Linked DNA regions of Homo sapiens: region 1 is linked to region 2. The links come from fine-mapping of genetic effects on gene expression. A gene starts in region 2. The other region holds a variant in brackets. All regions are shown on one strand. Distances are between the middles of the regions.

Region 1 (11,661 bases), 60 kb after region 2:
TTATTCTATAATACTTAGCATATTGCCCTTACCTCCATGGTCCAGTATGGTGCACCATCATATCCATCTCCATGTTCCAAGCAGCAGGATAGAAAATGGAGGCATGGGGCCGGGCACGGTGGCTCATGCCTGTAATCCCAGCACTTTGGGAGGCCAAGGTGGGCAGATCATGAGGTCAGGAGTTTGAGAACGGCCTGACCAACATAGTGAAACCCCATATCTACTAAAAATACAAAAATTAGTCAGGCATGGTGGCACATGCCTGTAATCCCAGCTATTCAGGAGGCTGAGGCAGGAGAATCACTTGAGTCCAGGAGGTGGAGGTTGTAGTGAGCCGAGATCATGCCACTGCACTCCAGCCTGGTGACAGAGTGAGACTCTGTCTCAAAAAAAAAAAAAAGAAAAGAAAAAAAAAGGAAAAAAGAAAATGGAGGCATGATGGGAATGCCCCTTTCATTATGACACATCCCAAAAGTTAAACATTTTACTTCCCATCACATGCAATTGACCAGCTCTTAGTGACGTGGCCACACTTAACTGTAAGGGAGGCTGAACAATGCAATCTTTATTATTATTTTTTTCGACATGGGATCTTGCTATGTTACTCAGGCTGGGCTTGAACTCCTGGGCTTAAGCAATCCTCCCTTCTCAGCCTCCTGAGTAGCTGGGACTACAAGTGTACACCACTGCACCTGGCTAACAATGCAGTCTTTATACCCAACCTCCATGCAAATGTCTACCAAAAAAAGGTTCTATCATTATAAAAAGGGGAGAAAAGATATTGGAATGCTGCCAGAAATCTCTGATTCAATAAATAGCAGACACACTTTAACATATGGAATTAGAACAGAATATAATGGAATTTTCTCTGAGGGTTGCTGAACATAGCTGAATGTGAGAAATGCCTCTAGATGTCATTAAATGGGACATTCTTCATTTATAATGAAATAGGTTGAGAAAAGACACAGGTTATGCTCAGTCTCAGCCCTAATGTCTATATTCAGAAAAGAAAAGGGTAAAAGACTGGACCGAATGAAAGTTTAAAGGTCTTTCTCACAGCAAATTGCTAATGTGAAGAGTTGTATGCTTGGCAGAATGTAGTGTGACTACCCAAACATTCCTCTGGGCCTTTGTAGAAAATGTAATGGCCCATAAGGAGGTCAAAGAGGCCTTGGGGCTAGAGGAGACAGAGAAAATACCAAGGGAAATTTACAGATGACAAACGCAAGGGCAAATTGGGTGCAAGTTCAAAACTGTGGAAACAGCATGGAGAGATAGAGGGCACGTGTACATCTGAGTTATCTTGCAACATACTACTAGGGGCAAAGAGTAATGGGGTTCTAAGCCACTGGTGGTAAAGGCAGAGGGCAGTTTCCAGAGAATGACAGCTGAGGAAGAACCTCCTGGGGCCACTGCTGCCCAGCTGACAGGCTCCTGGGCTGACTCTTCTGAATTGTACTTTTTTTTTTCTTTTGAAATGGAGTCTCGCTCTGTCACCCAGGCCGGAGTTCAGTGGCGCAATCTCAGCTCACTGCAACCTCTGCCTCCTGGGTTCAAGCAATTCTCCTGCCTCAGCCTCCCCAGTAGCTGGGACTACAGTCACCCCCCACCACGCCTGGCTAATTTTTTTGTATTTTTAGTAGAGACAAAGTTTCACCATGTTGGCCAGGCTGGTCTCGAACTTCTGACCTCAGGTGATCTGCCTACCTCGGCCTCCCAAAGTGCTGGGATTACAGGCATGAGCCACTGCACCCAGCCCTGAATTGCACTTTCTGAAGCAGTCTTCAAGCAGCTGATTTCCTAGAAGAGTGGTAATACTTGGCCTGTCTTCACCACTGTAAATGTCTGCAAAAGCTTTGGATAGATATTCCCTCTTCTCATGCTCTCAGGTTGATTATAAAGATACACATGTCACCCAAGCCACCTACGTGTGTCATAGGGTGCTCTGGTTTAGTGTTAGTGTTTTTGTTTCCTTCCATTTTTGGACTATTGCAATTAATTTGAGGTGAGGTAAATCCAAGGAAAAACATGGCTGAAGGTCTATCTATTCTTATTTCTAGTGCAATAACATCTTGTACACTCTTCCCTATTCTGGACCACTGAACCCAGGAGGTAGAACTTGCAGTGAGCCGAGATCGTGCCACTGCACTCCAGCCTGGGTGACAGAGTGAGACTCCATCTCAAAAAGAAAGAAAGAAAGAAAGAAAAATGGACTATTATTATTTCCAGAAATTATTCATAGGAGTCTTCAATAGTGAGCATCTGTTGGTGTGCATAGCATGCCTTCCCTCCCTTATTCTGGTAACAACACATTTCCTTACTCTGGGGAACTACCATTCTACATGGTTTCATTATTCCTGGTCCCACTCAGTTGCCAGGGCATAGAGATGGGCATTTGACCCAAGCAGGGACAATCCTGTGGTTCTTCATTCCTTTAGCAGCAGTGACTGTTTCAAAGTGTGGGCCTGGAATCCAAGGAGGGCCAATCAGAATTCTTCTTTGGCAGTGACAGGCAGATGTGGCTGAAAATAGTCAATCTTTCTGCCAGGGCTGCTAAGCTGAGATAATGAAAGTTTTGTGATAGAGGCAGCCATCTTCCCTGCCTGCAAAGAGGAAGCCCATCTGAGATGGGAAGCAGTAAGGCCAATACACAAAAGAAAGAATGGAGAGGTTGTGGGATAGGGTGGGGAGGAGAGGGAGAGACAGAGGCCTTATGACTCTAAGTTTTGGGGGCTGGCAACCCTCAGCCAGTTCTTACAGAGAACTTCCCAGTTTGGAAGTTGGAAATGTCTCTTTTTGTGCTTAAGGTAGTTTGAGTTGAGTTACTGTCATTGTAACTGAAAGAATCATGGCTAATATGCCCTATATACTAAATTTGTTCTTTTCCCTTTCCTTCCTGCCCTTGGACTCCTTTCTTTCCAGGCCCCTGTGTGACGAGGCCCTTGGTCTGAATCGGGACTGCCAGACTCTTCTGCAGGACCTGTCTCTCTTCTTGTCTTGGTTCAGGATTTTTCCATCTCTAGCTAATATTCCTGGTTTCCTTGGTTGTATTGACCAACTGTGACCCACAATCTTTATTTCCTCTTTTCTTCCAAAGTCTCTCCTCAACAGCCCTCCAATGTCTGTCTCCCTTATAATCACCTTAATCAACTTCCATGTTTTCCTTTGAGCAGATGTAGCCAGCTCAGTTTTTACTCTTTGTTCTGCAGCTGGTTCCCTTATGTCTTTATTTTCTTCAGATCTTAATCTTGAGTCATTTGCATAAATGTGTTTCTTTTTGACAGGAATGGTACATACCAGCCCCCTTATATCCTGCCAACTTTTTTTTTTAATACAGAAGACACTTCTCTGCTATGTTTCATATCCAAAACACTTCCTGACTACACTTTTTTTTCTTTGAGATGGAGTCTCGCTCTGTCGCCCAGGCTGGAGTACAGTGGTGTGATCTCAGTTCACTGTAGTCTCCGCCTCCTGGGCTCAAGTGATTCTCTGGTCTCAGCCTCCTGAGTAGCTGGGATTACAGGTGCCTGCCACCACACCCAGCTAATTTTTGTAGTTTTAGTAGAGACAGGGTTTCTCCATGTTGGCCAGGCTGGTCTCGAACTCCTGACCACAAGTGATCCGCCCGCCTCAGCCTCCTAAAGTGCTGGGATTACAGGCATGAGCCACCACACCCGGCCCTGACTACACATTTCACTCTGGTGGTTTAGAGGTGCCTCATCTCCAGCTGCTCCCTATCTCAAGTAAAATTATCAATCCCTAATGAAAACCACAGCAATTATTTAATTTTGTTAATTTTCATGCCAACAGTTCTATTTCTCACTTATTCTCCAGTTCAAGCCTCAAACCAGGCCCTTTTTGGAGGGCTGTTAAATTTTCACTGTTGTTTAAAGGCAAGTCACACAGCTCTTCCTTAGATTACTCTTCCAATTAATAAATGCAGAAGGAATAAATAATATAAAAATTCAACATTAGGCAAACACCATAGTAATAACTGTTGCAAGAAAGAACCACTAATGAATGCTAGAATTAGTGGACAAAGTCCAGTGAGAAACAGGATATTTGCATAATTTCAAAGAATCTCCCCACAAGATATTTATTCATTATGAAGAGGGAAAATTGTAACTCTACACTGGCGAATCCTAGAAGTGATCAAGGTCAACATCACCATGAAGACCCATCAGTATCACATAACCATGCTGTGATGCACTGAGAAGTGAACAACATCCCTTCTGTGATGTTCTTGACAAAAAATGTACAACCTCAATCTAGTCATGAGAAATCATCAGATAAACCCAAATTGAGGAACAGTCTGCAAAATAACTGACCAGTACTCTTCAGAAATGTCAGGGTCATGAAAGATGAAGAAAGACTGAGCAACAATTACAGACTGAAGGAGACGAGGGAGACAGGACAACTAAATACACATAACCCAGGATGGGATCCCAGACAGGAAAGGGACAGAGGACAAGTGATGAAATTTGAGTAAGGCCTGTAAATTAGGTAGTATTATTCTATCAAAGTTAATTTTCTAATTTAGATCACTGCCCTGATTTATTGTCTGAGTTAATAGCCTAGGCACCAGGATTTTTTTTTTGCGGGCGAGGGAGTCTCGCTCTGTCACCAGGCTGGAGTGCAGCGGTGCAATCTCGGCTCACTGCAACCTCTGCCTCCCGGGTTCAAGTGATTCTCCTGCCTCAGCCTCCCGAGTAGCTGGGATTACAGGTGCCTGCCACCACGCCCGGCTAATTTTTGTAGTTTTAGTAGAGACGGGGTTTCACCATGTTGGCCAGGATGGTCTCTATCTCTTGATCTCGTGATCCGCCTGCCTCCGCCTCCCAAAGTGCTGGGATTAGAGGCGTGAGCCACCGCACCCGGCTGGCATCAGGATTTTTAAAAGCTGCATGGGTGGTTTTAATGTGCAAAGGGAGGAAGTATTACATATCAACAACAATCTAGACACTAGCTTTGGCTTGTCCCACTACTCTTTTGTACTAAATCCTTGCAAAGATTGCAACTAGTCATTGCCTTGAGGGAACTCTGTGATAGATTGGATTTCCTAGAGGGAAGACATGGCAGATCAGACAGGAGCCAGGTCTGAATGGTGCTTCATGCTCTAGCTACTCAGGAGGCTGAGGCATGAGAATCACTTGTACCCAGGAGGCAGAGGTTGCAGTCAGCCAAGATCGTGCTATCGCACCCCAGCCTGGGTATATACATATGCTTACATACATACTTATGCATAAATTTAACCAAAGAGGGTAAGATCATACACAGACAACTATGAAACGTTGATTTATAAAATTATAGAAGACACAAATAAATGAAAATATATCATGTGATCATGGATTAAAAAAATCAATATCGTTAAAATGTCCACACTACTCAAATAGAGTCCCAAATAGAACTCTTACCTGATAGGTCAACAATGTAACCAGTCAATAACCAATGTTTTTCTTGTGAACAAGTAAGAATTCCTGAACAACTTTTGTATTTTTGTGTGTGTGTGATTTGTTACTCAAAGCAATCTACAGATTCAATGATATCCGTTTCGAAATTCCTTTATCATTTTTCACAGAAATAGAAAAAACAACCCTAAAATTTGTATGGACCCACAGAAGATCATGAATAGCTAAAGCAATCTTGAGCAAGAACAAAGCTGGAGGCATCACACTTTCTGATTTCAAAATATACTATAAAGATGTAGTCATTAAACAGTATGGTGTTAAACAGTATGGGCGACAGAGCGAGACTGTCTCAAAACAAACAAACAAACAGAAAGTTCAGAGATGTTTTTCATCAACTCTTTGAGAGGTCCAGGCAGGATGGAGCATGAGACGCCCTTGGCAAAGGCCAGCTCAGTTACACATCCTTGTGTTGCTTTGCTCTCCTTTGTTTTCCTCCCACTATCCTGTACTACTGCTCCTGGAATCACATTTCTGAATAATGACTTGCTCACAAGTTCCAAAGGCTCCTGGTTTTGTTTTTGTTTTTTTGAGACAGAGTCTCACTCTATCACACAGGCTGAAGTGCAGTGGCACAATCTCAGCTCACTGCAACCTCTGCCTCCTGGGTTCAAGCGATTCTCCTGCCTCAGCCTCCTGAGTAGCTGGGATTACAGGCATGCACCACCAAACTAAGTTTTGTATTTTTAATAGAGATAGGGGTGTCACCATGTTGGCCAGGCTGGTCTCGAACTCCTGACCTCAGGTGATCCTCCTGCCTCAGCCTCGGAAAGTGCTGGGATTACAGGTGTGAACCATCGCACCTGGCCCAAAGGCTCTATTTCTGAGAGAACCCAGGCTAAGATGTCTTCAGTGAAAACAATAAAATCACACAAAATTAGGATAATCATGGAAAATCCAGGATGTCTAATTTGGGGATAAGATTGTCTTCTGTTATTTGAGCTATCTGTCCCTCTTTTCTTCTTTCAAATGGAAGGCAAAATGGCTAGTCCAGTATCAGCTTGCTTTTTTTTTTGACCAGTCTGCTTTAATTCTTCAAATTCCCTTTGCACTCTCTCTCCTTCAGTGGTTTCATTTGCAGCTGACAGCTAACCCTCATTACCCCCTTGGCCGAAGTCAGAAGAAAATAATGAGG[C/T]TTAAATAATTTTTCTACTCTGTTTAAACAAACTCCCACTGGCCAGCTGCTGCCGCTGTTGTGCTTACAACCCTCCTTTTTTCTTCCAGCTTCTGAATATCTCTGCTGATAGCTAGCTTCCACCATCGTTCACCTTCTGCCCAGCCCACCTGCTACCCAACTTCCCCGTCCACGCCTCACACCTTGCAACTTTCCTCCTGTGCCTCACCACCGTTCACTCCGTCAGCCTCTCTTCTTCACACCTGCCACTCATGAGCAGTTTACGCTTTCCAAGACAGCAGCCATGCTGTGACGCAGGTGGGAAAATAATCAATGAACAAATAGTCCCTAAGGGCCATTTGACTTGTCCAAGACTACAATCATTCACGTATTCATTTGGCAAACATGTATTGAGTGTCTAATATGTGCCGCACATTGTTCCGGTGCGGGGTGTACAGCAGTGATAAAAGAGACAAAAAAAATTCCTGCTCACATACAGCTTACCTTTCAGACAGTGGCAAATTAGTGATAGAGCTGGGACACAACTCTACATCTCTTTATTTCTAAAATAGTCCTTTCTCTATACCTGTTTCCCTAATGGCAGACATGGCACTCATTCTATATCTCATGGTGTACTAGGCCGTTCTTGCATTGCATAAAGAAATACCTCACTTTGGGCGCGGTGGCTCACGCCTGTAATCCCAGCACTTTGGAAGGCCGAGATGGGCGGATCACGAGGTCAGGAGATCGAGACCATCCTGGCTAACACGGTGAAACCCCATCTCTACTAAAAATACAAAAAAATTAGCCGGACATAGTGGTGGGCACCTGCAGTCCCTGCTACTCAGGAGGGTGAGGCAGGAGAATGGCATCAACCCGGGAGGCAGAGCTTGCAGTGAGCCCAGATCGTGCAGCTGCACTCGAGCCTGGGCAACAGAGCAAGACTCTGTCTCAAAAAAAAAAAAAAAAACAAAAAAAAAACCTCACTTTGGGAGGCCGAGGCGGGCAGATCAGGAGGTCAGGAAATCGAGACCATCCTGGCTAACATGGTGAAACCCCATCTCTGCTAAAAATACAAAAAATTAGCCGGACATGGTGGCATGCGCCTATATTTCCAGCTACTCGGGAGGCTCAGGCAGGAGAATCGCTTGAACCTGGGAGGCAGAGATTGCAGTGGGCCAAGATTGCGCCACTGCACTCCAGCCTGGGTGACAGAGCGATACTCTGTCTCAAACAACAACAACAACAACACCCACAAAAGAAATACCTGAGGCTGGGTAATTGAGGAAGACAAGAGGTTTAATTGGTTCATGGTTCTGCAGGCTTTATAGGAAGCTGGCGCCAACCTTTGCTTGTCTTTTGGGGAGGCCTCAGGAAGCTTACAATCATGGCAGAAGGTGCAGGGGGAGCAGGTGTGTCACACAGCAAAAGCAGGAGCAAGAGGGAGTGCTGGGGGGAGGTGCTACCCAGTTTTAAATGACCAGATCTCAGGAGAACTCACTCACTATAGAGAGGACAGTACCAAGGGGGATAGTGCTAAACCATTCGTGAGAAATCTGCCCCCATGATCCAATCACCTCCCACCAGGCCCTACTTCCAACATTGGGGATTACAATTCAACATGAGATTTGGATGGGGACACAGATCCAAACAATATCACAATGGCTAAATTTTCTTATGAGTCATCGGGCTCCAGATTAAAATTTGTCATTGATTCACTACTCCCAGCCACCCCAGATTCTTCTCTGTTGAGCCTCTACAACTGTTAAGGATGTTCAACCTACCTTTCCCTATCTTGGCTGGAACTATGCAAACTGAAGGGCAGGAAATGCCAGGTGGAGCAGGAGAGGCTGAACCATGGCTGAACCATTTCAGCCACGGTTCCACTCTGAAGGGACATCAGCTTTTTCCCACTGATGTCCCTTTTCTTTGTGATTTTGAAAAGACTTTGCCACATTTCTCAGACCTGTGACTTGATATTTATTATAACGAAAAACCTTTTCCTTATGTAACAGCCTGCTTTAAAACCATCGTTATTATTAGTAGAGGTACAATTAGTTAATGAGACCACTGATATCTGTGATATCTGTGTAGGAGCAGTTCAGCTTTACCGAAGAGCCAGTTGATTCAGCTAGAGGCTGAGTGAGATACAATGTCTCCTACTTCCCCTCATTCCCTGCAAAGGCAATGGGAAATGACGGAGTGCTTTTTCAGTTCAGTGTGTACCCTCTTTGGGAATTTGCCATTGTTGTTTTTGAAGATAATGGAATTTATGCCACAGGATCCAGGTAGAATGCTATCCAACTTTTCTGTTTTCTAACAGAAATTAGGGCAAGGGCATCTCCATTTCTTGATGGATCTGAAAGATGAAGAACTGGCCACTCAGCAGCTGACCTGCATTTACAAGATCTGATAAGCCTCCCCTCCCCTCTCTCAATGGTTTGCAGCCTGACTACACAAGATGATTGGAGGGGTTTAAGATCTGCTTCATTTGAAAGAAAAAAAATCCCTATTAACCTTTAGAGATTAATTGCTTTGGATTGAGTATTGCCTCTCTTAACATCTTCTAAAATGTAAATACTTTCTGGAAGGAAGGAACACATTACGTTTTTTACACATTAGTGAGTTTTATCACATCAGCCTCCTCTATTTGAAATAGCTGGGCAGAACGAGCTCTAAATCTCTATCTTTAGGGAGGGAGGTAGAGAGCCTTGGAAGATATGAGGGATACGCTAGTCCCAAGGACTAACACAGGGCTGGCTGACCCTTTGTGATTACCAAGGACACGGTAAGGGTGATGCTGGGAGGGGAGGGGAGGGAGAGGCCCTGAGGGTTGTCGCTTCTGTCCTGGGGCCTTTGATTGCTTTAGCTCCCCTGTGGACATGTGGGAATAAAGCTGCTTCTGAGAGGTCCCTATGACCCCGGCAGCCAGGTTAAGCAATATTTCTCAAACTTTTCCCCACTCTGAGCCAGGCCACAGGCAATCATGACAATGTGTCCTAGACGTAACTGGTTTTACTTTGGCTTTCTCCTAAAGCAGTGGAAAAAAAAAAAAAACCAGTAAAAAGGATATAAACAAGATAAGTTCACGGAAGCATGGCAAGGCTCCCCGTTGCCTCCCTTTTATTTTAGGGAGGCCTTTCTGGAGTTCCATGACCTTGCTAGCCCTGCAAAGATGCCTTTTATGCTCCAAATCAGAAAAAAACATACACTAGCATACAAGGCTATGATTTTACTACCCAGAAAGCTACATCTCTCAGACCTGCCTGGGTTTACAGCCTGGAAATTCTTATTGCATCGGCTCTGGGAAAAAAATCTCACTTATCTAAGCTGATGCTTCTGGGGTGAGTTTTCCATTCACGTCCACTAGGGACAATGGCCCACTATGCATTCAGATCTTTCCAGGGGTCAGACACACTTCCGTCAGTAATGGCTGCCCATTCTGGTGGTGACTTCACACAGCAAAGGGAAAGACAAGAGTAACAGCAATTCTGGAGAAAAGAAGCTTCTAATACACTCCACAAAGGAGGGAGGGCTCCAGGCCGTGTTCCCTTTAAAATATATATTTTTGGTGCTAATGAAAAATAACAAAATAAACTGGCACAACAGGTGACTTTATATAGCTTAAACTAATTTCCAATTGCTATGAGGTGTACTAAAGGTCGTAGTAAGGATATCTATAATGTATTCTCTTTAATTTTATGTATGTTAATTACAAATGCCTGGATTTCCAACATTGAGGAATATAGGTTGCCTTTAAAATTGTGATTTTTCGTAGCTGTTTTGGTTTTCATGTTGATAAACTTTTAAAAATGCCATCAGCAGTCTAAGACATGACTTTCTGTACTCGGAGGCTAAAGACGTGGTGACAGTTTTTCTGCTTTCTAACTCCCCCTATCTTTTTGGAACAGGCTGTGACTGTGGGCGGACTATTCTGATACCATTGCTTTGGCTGTGCGGTATTTTGCAGCTTAAAAGTAAAAGTTCTCTCTGTTATCATTGAACATGCATCCTTGCTAAACACACAATGGATGTTCTGTAGATATAAATGAGTTCCTTCAATTCTGATGTTTCAGTTCAATGGCTCTCAAATTTCAGCATGCATTTACATCACCTGGGAAGAGTTCTAAAATGCACACATCTAGTGTTACCTACAGAGTATATGATTCAGCAGGCTGGGTTGGGTATCAAGGATCTGCATTAATCTGTGGCCTGAGGACTGCATTCTGAAGACAAATCATTACCTTAGGGCAGAGTTTCTCAACCTCAGCACTATTGCCATTATGGTTGGATGATATTTGTTGTGAGGGCTGTTGTCTGCATTGCAGGATGTTTAACAGCACCCGTAGCCTCTCCCCACGAGATGCCACTAACATTTTAATCCTCCTCCCACTTGTGACAACCAAAAATGTCTCCTGGAGTGGTGGATTTGAGAACCAATGCCTTAGAATCTTTGTCCTTCCCAACTCAAATGTCCTGGCCACCTGAGCATTCTTGTGACGAATTTGTGTATGGGGCTCTTGTCCCAAACATATTTTTCTTTTCTTTCTTTCTTTTTTTTTGAGACAAAGTCTTGCTCTGTTGACCAGACTGGAGGGCAGTGGTGCGATCTCGGCTTACCACAACCTCTACCTCCTGGGTTCAAGCGATTCTTCTGCCTCAGTCTCCCAAGTAGCTGGGACTACAGGTGCATACCACTGCACCTGGCTAATTTTTGTATTTGTAGTAGAGATGGGGTTTCACTATGTTGGCCAGGCTGGTCTCGAACTCCTGACCTTGTGATCCACCCACCTCAGCCTCTCAAAGTGCTGGGATTACAGGCGTGAGCCACCACACCCAGACTCCAAACTTAGTTTTCTTAGGAAGCTGTATGATAAAATGAGGGTTTTCTTAGTCACTTAGAGCTTAAACTAAGGGCACATGACCATTACCAACCCCCCAGACAACTTTTATTTGACCAGAACAGATTTGGTTCATTATTAAAATGAGTTACTAACATTTGCAACTTGAGATATATCCATTTTTAAAATTTTCTTGAAAATTCAGGAGATCTGATCACACGGGCCCACACTCCTATGAATA
Region 2 (11,661 bases):
TCCAAACTAGTACTGATGCAATGCTATAGCCTACCGTAAACCTTCTAAGAAATTCAAGGCCTAGGGATGCTACCCTTTCAGACATGACATGTCAAACTGTATTTGCTTTCTCTAGGACGGGGAAGAGGGAGACAGAGTAGATGCCAAGAGGTTTCCATTATGGCTTCTTTCTGGCCTTTGAGAGTTTCCCTAGAAAGGGTCACCATAAGCCACTATCATTCTAACATCTAAAGCTTGCTCTTTCGACCAGAATTGATAGCAAATGGAAAGTAACAATTAGAATTTATAAGACTGGAAGAGAATAGGAGAGGGAAAAGAAAGCTATTAGAAGAGGAAGGGATCCTTTGGAAAGGTAGGAAAGAAGATGACCTTCACCCATCTGACTGTTTGCTCTAGCGCCACCTACAGCCACACCACCTGACCCTCAAAAATCACCGACCCCTGGCCAGACAACATTTTTTCCAGCTAACTGCAGGTGCCTGGCTTATTTGATTAAACCACCACATTATAAGGTCAAGGTCACATGCTTGATCCCTACGTTTGTCCTACGTTTGTCAATGGGCACAAGTTGCATGGTCAAAAACTTGCCTTTTAACTCCAACCTCTCATAAATACCATCACTTACGTTAAAGACATTCACAAGAGAGGATATGAACCAACAATGCAAATCCATCAGCATTACTAAAAGAAAAAAAAACAGGAAAACCTGACTTGTGAGTCAGCCCACAGAACAAATTCCATTTAAGAACTCCCTGATCATCCTGGGCTTCAAGGTTAGATACATAAGAGTAAGAAATCAGGCTTCCCTACTTACTCGTTTTATGTGTGACCTTGGACAAGTTAATTTTTCAGAGCTTTAACAATAAAACACATTAAGGGTCCCAAATAGAGCTTGACATATAAGGGATACTCAGGTTATGCTAGCCCCAGCCCCATCTGGAGATAGAATCGGGCAGTCAAGAGCACAGGGATGAAGCCAGGTCCACCTGTATCCCAATCTTGATTTTGCAGCTCACGTGAAACACTGGGCAAGTGATGGCCTTATCGTTCTCATAAAGCTGAGACAAAAAAATTAAAGCATTTAGACAGCACACAGCAATTGTCAACTAACGGCAATTATGTTTTAAATGTTAAGAAGAATATAGTATTATCACTATCTGTTAATGTTTTCCAAAGTACAGTCATGGAACTATTGATATCAGAATGACCTGGGTGGGATGTCTACTGAGGGGGAAGAAAAGGATATCATGTCCCATCTCAACCTATTTAAAAAAGCTCTCCAAAAATGGTACAGGGTAATGGTCATTTCTGAATCAAACTTCCTTGAGATATCTATGAAAATTTCAGAATTACTGACCCAGCAGGTCTTGTGCTGTGTCATAGTAAATTAAGACTTGTTTTCCAATCCTTATTCTTTACTATGCCAGAATTGCCCAGTATCTGGGGTTCTTTTCTAATGAGACACATTTCTGGACATAGATGTCAAACTGATAGGCTCATACTTTTTAGGATCACTCCTGTTTTTTCCCCCAATGGTACTATTTTGACTTTTTTTTTTTTCTTCTAACCAGGGGTCGGCAAGCTATGGCCTTGATCTGCAGCTAATTTTGTACAACCGCAACCCTCAGAAGGTGTATGTGTTTAAAAAAAAAAACTGAAGAAGAAGTGATCAAGACCACATGTTGCCCTAAGTCTAAAACACTTACTAACCGGCCCTTTACAAGAAACCTTGCCAATCACTTTGTAGCCTATAATTAAATGTTTTTCAACTGGAGGTCTCAATACAATTTAAAATAGGGAGAAATAACTGATTCAAATAGGAAATATCAAAAAGCACTGCATCTGACAGAAGGAAGTACCTGTACTATTGCCAAAGTTTCTGTTATACAGATGTATGTGCCTCCTGGATAATGATCAAATTGTATTTGGTTGCAGTCAAAAAGTTTTAAAGTCCTTGGGGGTGAGGCTAGGGAGTAAATAGTGCAATTGTTTAACAAGTTTAACTTGTTTAAGTCACACTGAGCAATTTTTACAGCAAAGGTGCCTTGGAGAATATAAAGCCATATAAAATGACCCCTGCTGTTCAGAAGTTAACGGCTTATTTCTTCACTACAAAATGAAAATGGAATCTTTTCTGTGCGCAATATATTGTTATAAGGAGAAAATGCAATCATCAATGCAAAGTACTTCAACAAATGCATTATACAAACAAAATATTTTGATTATATTAACAACATATCATACAGAATATATATATATATATGGTCTTTACCAAGCCCCTTAGTTCCTAGTTTTCTCCAACCTGGGAAAAGAGTCCTTTTTTTCCCCTTTGTGTGTGTGCACGAACATGTCAGGAGCATAAAAGAAGTATTAGATATCTCTGCCCTTTCTGTCATCCGTTACTGGCTGCTGCTTCTTACCTATTTAAAACATGCATTCTTTTCTCTTTCTCGTTTCTGGTAGGAAAAGCTTTTGATTCGATTCTTGTGCAAAAAGAATTATTAAGACTATGTTTATCCTCTTGGGGAAACATTTAGAAGTCCAAAATTAAAATTGTAAGTAACAAGCTTCACTTTTATCTTCACAGCGCACTAATTTCCAGGGTTTCTGGGATTCTTTTGGAGAAACTAAAAATACACTAATTTTATAATCCATTTCAACATGTAATCCTGCAAAGAAAAGAAACATCTTCCTAGGAGCATACACAAGGAAATGAAATGACACTTTTAAATGTTTTCATTTTATGAAATACACTGCGGACACACAAACCACAAGCAGTGTAAATAAATAAAAGCTGGTGCAATGCTGCATGCATGTTTGCCTTACACCACAAAGAGAAAACACTTGCACACTGCACTCCATGGTATTTTAGCTTGGGTTGCCATAAAAATGAGATTTGGGCATGTTGTGTAATACAAGGGGCTGTAAATGAGGGTGTGTGTCTGGGTGTGTTAGGGAAAGAGGGTTGTAAGCAGAAGGGGTGGGACTTGCCAGGAGCAGCTATTTGAGAAAATTCCTTTTTCTTTCCCATTCATTCTTTCTAGCTCTACTGTCTGGCACAATCCTTACAATTACTCACTGGCTTTTCATTCTAAAGACAACCAACAAGCTTTCAGAACTTCCTACAGTGTTTTTCTCATACACTTTTAAAAAAATAAAGCACCAAATCATTCAATATGTCTTTTATATAAAAAGCAAACCATTAACCCATTTCCTCGTTCCAAAGACCCCCGTGGGTTTCAGACTAAATAGAATCCTTTGTTACGTGTCCAAAAATAACACAACACGGTATTGGTAAATTGGAAAATAATAGATAACTCTTATTTCCAAGAATGTCAGAGCTACTGGCCATAAATTTTGTTCTGCCCCAGTGAGTCCAATTTCATGCTTCTTTTAGCGAATCTACCGTCCTAACAACAGTAAAGCCAATCATATTAAACACGGTTCTCCTTTTCTCTTTCGACATTCCATTAATAAATACAAGGGCTGAAAGAAGACGCCAAGCGGGCCAGTTTCTTTATGCACAATGGTATCCTCTAAGCGAAATACCTCCAACCACAGCGAAAGTTGTCTTTCTAGCAGATGCCCACCCCAACCGGCCCAGGCAGAGGGGGCAAAGGGTAAGAGGGAAGCGTAACATCCCAGCTCTCCCACCTCTAGAGGAAGGGAAGAGGGTATGACAGAGAGCGGAGTAGGAAGGTGGGCGAGTGGGAGAGACAGAAATGGATGCTGAGGGGGTGGGCGAGATGGGAAGGTAGGGAAAGGTGGAGAATGCGGGGAGAGGTGGGTGCGCAAAGCGGCAAGATCCGAGAGCACAGCGGGGAGCGGTGGGGGGCAGCGAGGGGATCCGGGGGCGCGAAGTGGGGGGTCTGGTCCTCACCATTGAACGCCCCTGCGTCCGCGGGCGCCGCCTCCTCCTCCTCCCCGTCCTCGGAGTCGGACTGCATGGGCTCCTCGGCGAAGTTGACCCCCTTGCTGGGGGTGCCGCCCCCGGCAGCGGCGCCCAGGTCCCCCCAGGTCCTGCCCTCATGGCCGAAGCGCGCGGTGCCTTTGCGCTCGTTCTCCTGCTGCAGGCGGGTGAAGTGCTGCAGCGCGAACTCCAGCAGGTCCGCGGGCTGGTGCCTCAGCACCTCCACCGTGAAGCCCTGCAGCAGCTCCGTCAGTCCCGCCGGGATCTCGATGCTCATCCTGCCTCCGGGGCGGCAGGCGCCTGGGCGCCGCCCTCGCCCCCTCCCCGGCACGGCCTAGGGCCCCGCGGCTGCCGAGCGAGCGCCTACGGCGCTGGCGCGCTACCGGCTGCGAGCGCGGCGCACTGGGCCCCGGCGGCCCGGCTGGCCCGGCCCGCGGCTCCCGGCGCGCGTCTGCTCCGTGTGGTGGCGGCGGCTGAGCGAGCGCGGCCCCGGGAGGGCTGGCAGCATCTCCTGCTCCTCCCGCTCCAGCCGCGGCCGCGCCTCTCCCCCGCCCGGGCGCCCCGCCCCCGCCCCGCCGCGGTGCGCGGGAGGGGGCGCAGGAGAGCGCGCCCACGTGACCCCCGGAAACCATGGCAACCTCCGCTGGCTGGCGCCGCGCACCCGCCTGTCAGACCACCGCAGGGCTGCGCGCCCGGGCCGGGAGAGGCGGAGGGAGGCCCAGCGAGGCCGCCTTCGTGTCCACCTGTCCGCGCGTCCAGGAGCGGGCTGGCCACTCGCCCCGCTTCCCAGGCGTCATTCGCCATGGTGAACCCCCGCAGAGGTGGTGCCAGGAGATTTGTCTTGAAACTTCAGCCTCCACCTTAGTAGTGGCATTTTATTTTCCTTCTAGAATCTAGTTGCATGATAAGTGTTGCTAATGTCCTTTGTTTAAAGTCTTATGGTGGTACTGGTTCTCTTTTGGACAAAGAAATGCTACCCCATCTTTGTGACGTCTTTCTTTTTCTTCCCCACATTTTATCCAGCCTTTCCCGATCCATCCTGTTTATTATGTTTCGTCTTACTGATGCTATTCCGTTGTGCACTCCACGCATTTACTATTTATTGAGACAAAGGCACCATTTATTGAGAGGCACCTATCAAAGTTAGTTGATCTCTTTTAAATAGGATAGTGCAGGATGAGGCGCTTATTATTTTGAAACTTTCCTTTATGCTTTGAATGATTTTTGACTTGTATGTCCAAAAATTGAAATACTTCAGTATAAAGAAAAATAGAATTACTAATGTGTGCTTTTAAAGTAGAAGGCTTTGACTTTGAAATGAGGCTTACTTTGCAAATGTTTACAATTTTGAAGTAGAGAAAATTGTCTTTTGTCAATTAAATTCTATTTAAGTACGCATACTTCATTTTCTACAATTATCATATCATTGTAAATAAAATATTTCAAGAGCAAGCTCACTTGGTTATTCTGATTTATCTTCCCACCCACGGAAGAGTAAACACATGACTGGGGAAACTCCAAGTCTAGAAATCAGAGATGTAACGAACTAGTCCCTCTTGTAAAAATGGATCTTGATGTTAACCCTTTGTTAATGATGCATCCTGTATTGACTCCATGAGCCAATGTATTTCTCTATTTTCATTTCTTAACAACTTTATAGTAATAATGTTACGTTGCTTTAAATATACAGTAGTTAAGTGCTTCTAATTGTGTCGAGCATTTTAAGAATTAAACTTTTGGCCGGGCGCAGTGGCTCACTCATGCCTGTAATCCCAACACTTTGAGAGGCCGAGGTGGGCGGATCACCTGAGGTCAGGAGTTCAAGACCAGCCTGGCCAACATGGTGAAACCCCATCTCTACTAAAAATACAAAAATTAGCGGGCATGGTGGCAGGCACCTGTAATCCCAGCTACTCAGGAGGCTTAGGCAGAAGAATCGCTTGAATCCAGGAGGCGGAGGTTGCAGTCAACCGAGATCGTGCAGTGCCGTTGCACTCCAGGCTGGGGGACAAGAGTGAGACTTCGTCTCAAAAAAAAAAAAAAAGAATTAAACTTTTATAAAATATGGTGAGCCTCACATGTCACCGGTTGGAGCACAATGTTAGTACTACTCTCTACCGTGTAAGCATTATTATTTTTACGGATCTGGTAATCTAAGATGCATGTGTATCACCTGTCTAAATTTGTGATAATATTTGTATTAATTATGATAAACACTGCTCACATGTGGCAGAAAATGCGAAATACAATAGCTTAAGATTTATTTCTCTGGAATCTAAATGTGGGCAGTTCAGAGTTGGTATTGAGAGGTGATAGCGTGCTGGCAGTCCTCACAGCCCGCACTCGCTCTTGGCGCCTCCTCTACCTGGGCTCCCACTTTGGCAGCGCTTGAGGAGCCCTTCAGCCTGCCGCTGCACTGTGGGAGCCCCTTTCTGGGCTGGCCAAGGCCTGAGCCAGCTCCCTCAGCTTGCGGGGAGGTGTGGAGGGAGAGGCGCGGACGGGAACTGGGGCTGCGCGTGGTGCTTGTGGGCCAGCGCGAGTTCCGGGTGGGCGTGGGCTCGGCAGACCCCGCACTCGGAGCGGCCGGCCGGACCCACCGGCCCCGGGCAGTCAGGGGCTTAGCACCTGGGCTAGCAGCTGCTGTGCTCAATTTCTCGCAGGCCTTAGCTGCCTTCCCGCGGGGCAGGGCTCGGGACCTGCAGCCCGCCATGCCTGAGCCTCCCCCCCACTCCGTGGGCTCCTGTGCGGCCCGAGCCTCCCCGACGACCGCCGCCCCCTGCTTCACGGCGCCCAGTCCCATCGACCACCCAAGGGCTGAGGAGCGCAGGCGCACAGCGCGGGACTGGCAGGCAGCTCCACCTGCAGCCCCAGTGCGGGATCCACTGGGTGAAGCCAGCTGGGCTCCTGAGTCTGGTGGGGACGTGGAGAACCTTTGTGTCTAGCTAAGGGATTGTAAATACACCAATCGGCACTATGTATCTAGCTCAAGGTTTGTAAACACACCAATCAGCACCCTGTGTCTAGCTCAGGGTTTGTGAATGCACTAATCGCCACTCTGTATCTAGCTATTCTGGTGGGGACGTGGAGATCCTTTGTGTGGACCCTCTGTATCTAGCTAATCTGGTGGGACATGGAGAACCTTTGTGTCTAGCTCAGGGATTGTAAACACACCAATCAGTGCCCTGTCAAAACAGACCACTGGGCTCTACCAATCAGCAGGATGTGTGTGGGGCCAGATAAGAGAATAAAAGGAGGCTGCCTGAGCCAGTGGTGGCAACCAGCTCGGGTCCCCTTCCACAGTGTGGAAGCTTTGTTCTTTTGCTCTTTGCAATAAATCTTGCTACTGCTCACTCTTTGCGTCCACACTGCCTTTATGAGCTGTAACACTCACCATGAAGGTCTGCAGCTTCACTCCTGAAGCCAGCGAGACCACGAGCCCACCGGGAGGAACTCCAGATGCGCCGCCTTAAGAGCTGTAACACTCACCGCGAAGGTCCGCAGCTTCACTCCTGAGCCAGTGAGACCACGAACCCACCAGAAGGAAGAAACTCCGAACACATCCGAACATCAGAAGGAACAAACTCTGGACACGCCACTTTTAAGAACCGTAACACTCACCGCGAGGGTCTGCGGCTTCATTCTTGAAGTCAGTGAGACCAAGAACCCACCAATTCCGGACACAGTGTGGTACTCCATGATCATCAGGGACCCAGGCTCCCTCCAGCTCATTGCTCTATGATCCTGTCTGTGGTCCAAAATGGCTGCTCCAGGGCCAGTCATATTTTAGCTAAGAGGAAAGTGAAAAAGAGAAGGGAAGCTCCCCTCCCCTCCCTTCCTTCTAGGAAGTTAAACACAATTCCTCTTCTATCCTCTTGGCTAGAACTTAGTCAACATGGCCACACCTTTGGTGTGGCAAATTGCATTTTCCAAAGACGGCTACAACAATATCTCCTACAGTGTGGCGTGGCCACTACTCACTAATGAATTGAAGTCTTATTTCCCCTCCCCTTGAATCTGAATGTGCTTGTGATTTCTTTGACCAATAGAACATTGTAAAAGTCAAGTCAGCATGATAGAAGAAGCCAGCCCTGTACTGGATGCCCTGGCTGAAGCCTTGTTCCACAGAATCTGTGAGCATAATAAAAAGGTTGTTGTAGGCCTCTAGGTTTTGAGATAATCTGTTACACAGCAATAGCAACTGAAACCAATGGCTATTAGGAAAGTTTGGAAATGTAATATTTATTTTGAGCAGTCACGTGCCAAGTAAACATTTGGGAATTAAAAAGAACCAAGTCTGGACGGGCACAGTGGCTCACTCCTGTAATCCCAACACTTTGGAGGGCCAAAGAGGGTGGATCGCTTGAGCCCAGGGGTTCGAGACCAGCCTGGGCAACATAGGGAGACTCCATCTCTATAAAAAAATACAAAAATTGGCCAGGCTTGGTGGTATACATGTGGTCGTAACTGTTCGGGAGGCTGAGGTGGGATAAGCGCCTGAGCCCAGGGAGGTCAAGGCTGCAGTGAGCTGTGGTTGTGCCACTGTACTCCGGCCTGGGTGATAGAGTAAGACCTTGTCTCAAAAAAAAAAAAAAAAAAAAAAAGTCTGGAGATAATTATCAATCTCTGCCACAATGTCTAATACCTTTTCCCTAGGAATGACAAAATTAAAAAAAGCACTACTTTTCCAAACATTATTAAGAGCCATATCTTGTTAATGCCATTTTGTGTTTCCAAATTCATTTATTTCTTCTTGTAGATTTATTATATGAAGCATGGTAGATAGCTCTCTGTCATCAACCACAATGCCAAGGTTGTGTGGTTCTCATTTCTTTAAGAATATAGCAATGATTTCAAGCATGAAATGCGTAATTGGATTAGATGACCTATATAGTCTTTTTCATCCTGAGAGATTTACAATAGTATAATACTAAAACAAGACTTATTGGACTTGAAACATCTTTGCAAACAGCTCTTTGGTAATTTTCATTTGCATCAGTTCTTAAATCAATAACCATGACCTGAAAAAGTAAAGCTTGGTCCTGATATTCCCATTACATTAGCATTGTTCTCAGAACAAATGTTCACTTCTCAAATCATATTCTGGCTTTTATTCACTACCACATAACCTTTTTGGTAATATTTTATGATTTCTTTTGCTTTCATTTTCAGAATATTTCATTTTGAGCCTTTTGAACAGTGGCTTATGGGAACTATGTATCTCATATTCCTTAAAAGAGCATCACTGATACTGATTCTTTGGTTGTGGATTTGCAAAGCAATTTGCACCAGTTTCTCAGAGAATCAGACTGGAAGCAATGGCAAATGAACTCTGAGAGCTCAGCATTGAAATGAAAAGAGTGCTATCAAATTTGTTTTCACACCAGGAAATTAAACAGACCCATCAACTTGCTTATATGTAACTGCCAAAAAAACAAAGTCAATGGCTTGGGCAAGCAGTACAGAATAATAACTATGACCAATCAATCATGCAGCATTTCCTGTCAATAGTTAAGGTGTTTCCTGATCAAGTCTCTGGAGTGCAAGAAATATATACCCACTCAAGGAAAAAAAAGGAGGCAATTGAGAGGATACAGGGCCTGTTCTTGCCCAAGGCTGACTGTGATCATCAGCCTCAGTTTTACGTACCTTTAGCATTTCAACACTGACTACAGTTTTGGTGTCTCTGATTCATATTCTCAAGAGAGAATCAGGTTAGTTGGTCTTGACCATCTAGTAGATTGCCTGGCCTTGACTGGTCTAGTAAGTGTGGCCAGTAGGGTGCCAGATAAGGAAGTGGTCAGGTAGTATAAATACATGATAAGGCCTGCCTCTTCAGCAGAGGAAAGTCCCGAATATTGGGAACAGTCCCAATGTTATAGAGGTGGTACAGATACTTCACAACATGCCTGCTAAAAGATGGTCACCTCATAGCCTGAAAATCTTACAGACATTTGGACTAAAAGTAAGTAAAATGTTTAATCTCTATGTGCAACTTCGCAAAAGGGTTGCCGCTAGAAAACTAGTGATTCTCAAATTTTACCAAGCATCTGAATCACCTGGAGGGCTACTTAAAACACAGTTGCTGGGCCCCACCCCCAGAGTTTCAGATTCAGTAAGTCTGAGGTGGGGCCCGAGAATTTGCACGTCTATCAAATACTCAGGTGATACTTAGGCTGTAGGTCTCGGGACCACACTTTGAGATCCACTATGCTAGATTCACTAAGGAAGAGCTTATGTTCATGCTGAATAGGAAGCTGCTTGAAGCAACTTTTTTTGCTTAATATCAACGCATAAGTTTTTCTTTGGCTAAATCAGGACGAAATGTATACTCATTATTCTCCTTTAAGGAATCTTGCAAAGTTAAAGAGATTCTTAAAAAGCAACAAAGAATATGTCCTTAAACATATTTCATAAACAGAATATGGGTTTTCTATTAAGGACCACGTTGGACACAGAAGTTTATCTCTACTCCACTAAAATAATGGCTAAAGGAACACAGGAAAACTCAAACAACAAAAAGAACAGGAGAACCACAATACAAATTTAAAATAATTTTAATTTTTTTTGATTATTCAGCCTTAAAAGGAAGGAATTTCTGACACATGCTAGAAGACATTATGCTAAGTGAAATGTCAGTCACAAAAAGACAAACACTGCATGATTCCACTTATATGAAGTATCTAGAAAAGTCAAAATTTATAGAAAGAGAAAGTAGAATGGTGGTTGCCAGTGGCTGACTGGGGAGGGGAGAATGGGAAGCTGTTTAATGGGTAAAGAGCTTTGGTTTTGCAAGATGAAAAAGTTCTGGAACTGGTTGCACAACAGTGTGAATATATATAACACCGCTAAACTGTACACTTAAAACGATAAAGATAGTAAACTTCATGTTATGTGTACTTTATCACAAATTTTAAAAAAATTAATTCTTTAATTAAAAAAAAGAATAGGAAAAGAGACAAGAACAGATGAGAGTTGTCTACTAGAATTTTGGAACTAACAGCAAACTGAAGAATGCTGGAACCTAAGCCTGGGTGAAGGGTCAGTGAGAGCAAGCCAACAAGAAGCAAGATCACATCTGTATTACAGAGCACAGAGTCTGAAGACACCAGGTGTCTCTGGAGGGCTGGTAAGGGGTGAGGATTGGTTAAATGGCTGTAGAAAGAGCTGATAACACTGTCCACCCTCCAGCCCCTTCTCTATCTTATGTAGGCAAGTAATTGCTCTTCTTCATTCCCAGGGGGAAGTGGAGGAATTTATTTTCTAGAGAAGTTTACACAGCTTACTATGGGGATGAGATTCTATACTAAAAAGAGGAAGATTGATCCTGATTAGTGAGCTACTTATCGGTGGCCTCCTTCCCTTCTGGACTCCCCAAATTTTGGACAGACAGATGTATACCCTCTTAGGCAGGAAATTAGAGAATTCCTTTTTAAGGAACTGACCAGCCCAAGACACAAGACCTACAGTTGCTGACATTGGAGGGTCCCCATTGAAAAACTCAGGTCTCCGTGTTTTCACTCCATTGTGAAGTCCACTGGTCAGTAACCACCACCCCTCCGCATACTTTACAAGTATGAAATTGTGCAAGAATCCTGACTTCCAAGAAAACTTATTCATATGAAAGACTAGAATCAAGATAAATGAATTAAATACATAAAATCAAAGAAGTAAAAACTGAAGTGTGAACGGAAGAAAAAGTCAAAAAGTCAAAAAGGCATTTTTCTCTAACATACAATAATGATAACAATAAT

Which allele goes with the higher level. Positions count from the first base shown, and alleles are read on the strand shown. Sizes are in standard deviations (SD) of each study's normalised expression.
As copies of T replace C in region 1, the expression in pancreatic islets of the gene that starts at base 4,390 in region 2 goes down (large effect, 1.2 SD a copy in PISA).

Evidence for each region. PIP is the estimated chance that this variant, and not a neighbour inherited with it, causes the effect. A credible set is the group of variants that fine-mapping cannot tell apart.
Region 1: its variant is the best candidate, but not a certain one, in a credible set for the expression of PRKAR2B in pancreatic islets (PISA, PIP 0.89).

Annotation. Positions count from the first base shown.
Region 1 is chr7:106,977,609-106,989,269 of GRCh38, reverse strand. No RefSeq gene overlaps it. Among named protein-coding and RNA genes, the nearest start is that of PRKAR2B, 61 kb to the left of the region's middle. RefSeq lists cis regulatory regions at 9,189-9,588, 9,800-10,113, 10,285-10,956. The variant C/T (reference allele first, on the strand shown) is at 6,601.
Region 2 is chr7:107,037,434-107,049,094 of GRCh38, reverse strand. It overlaps PRKAR2B (protein kinase cAMP-dependent type II regulatory subunit beta), which reads right to left and starts at 4,390. Exons shown (of 11, transcript NM_002736.3): 1 at 3,881-4,390. The coding sequence starts at 4,187. RefSeq lists silencers at 3,997-4,291, 4,078-4,637, 8,126-8,337.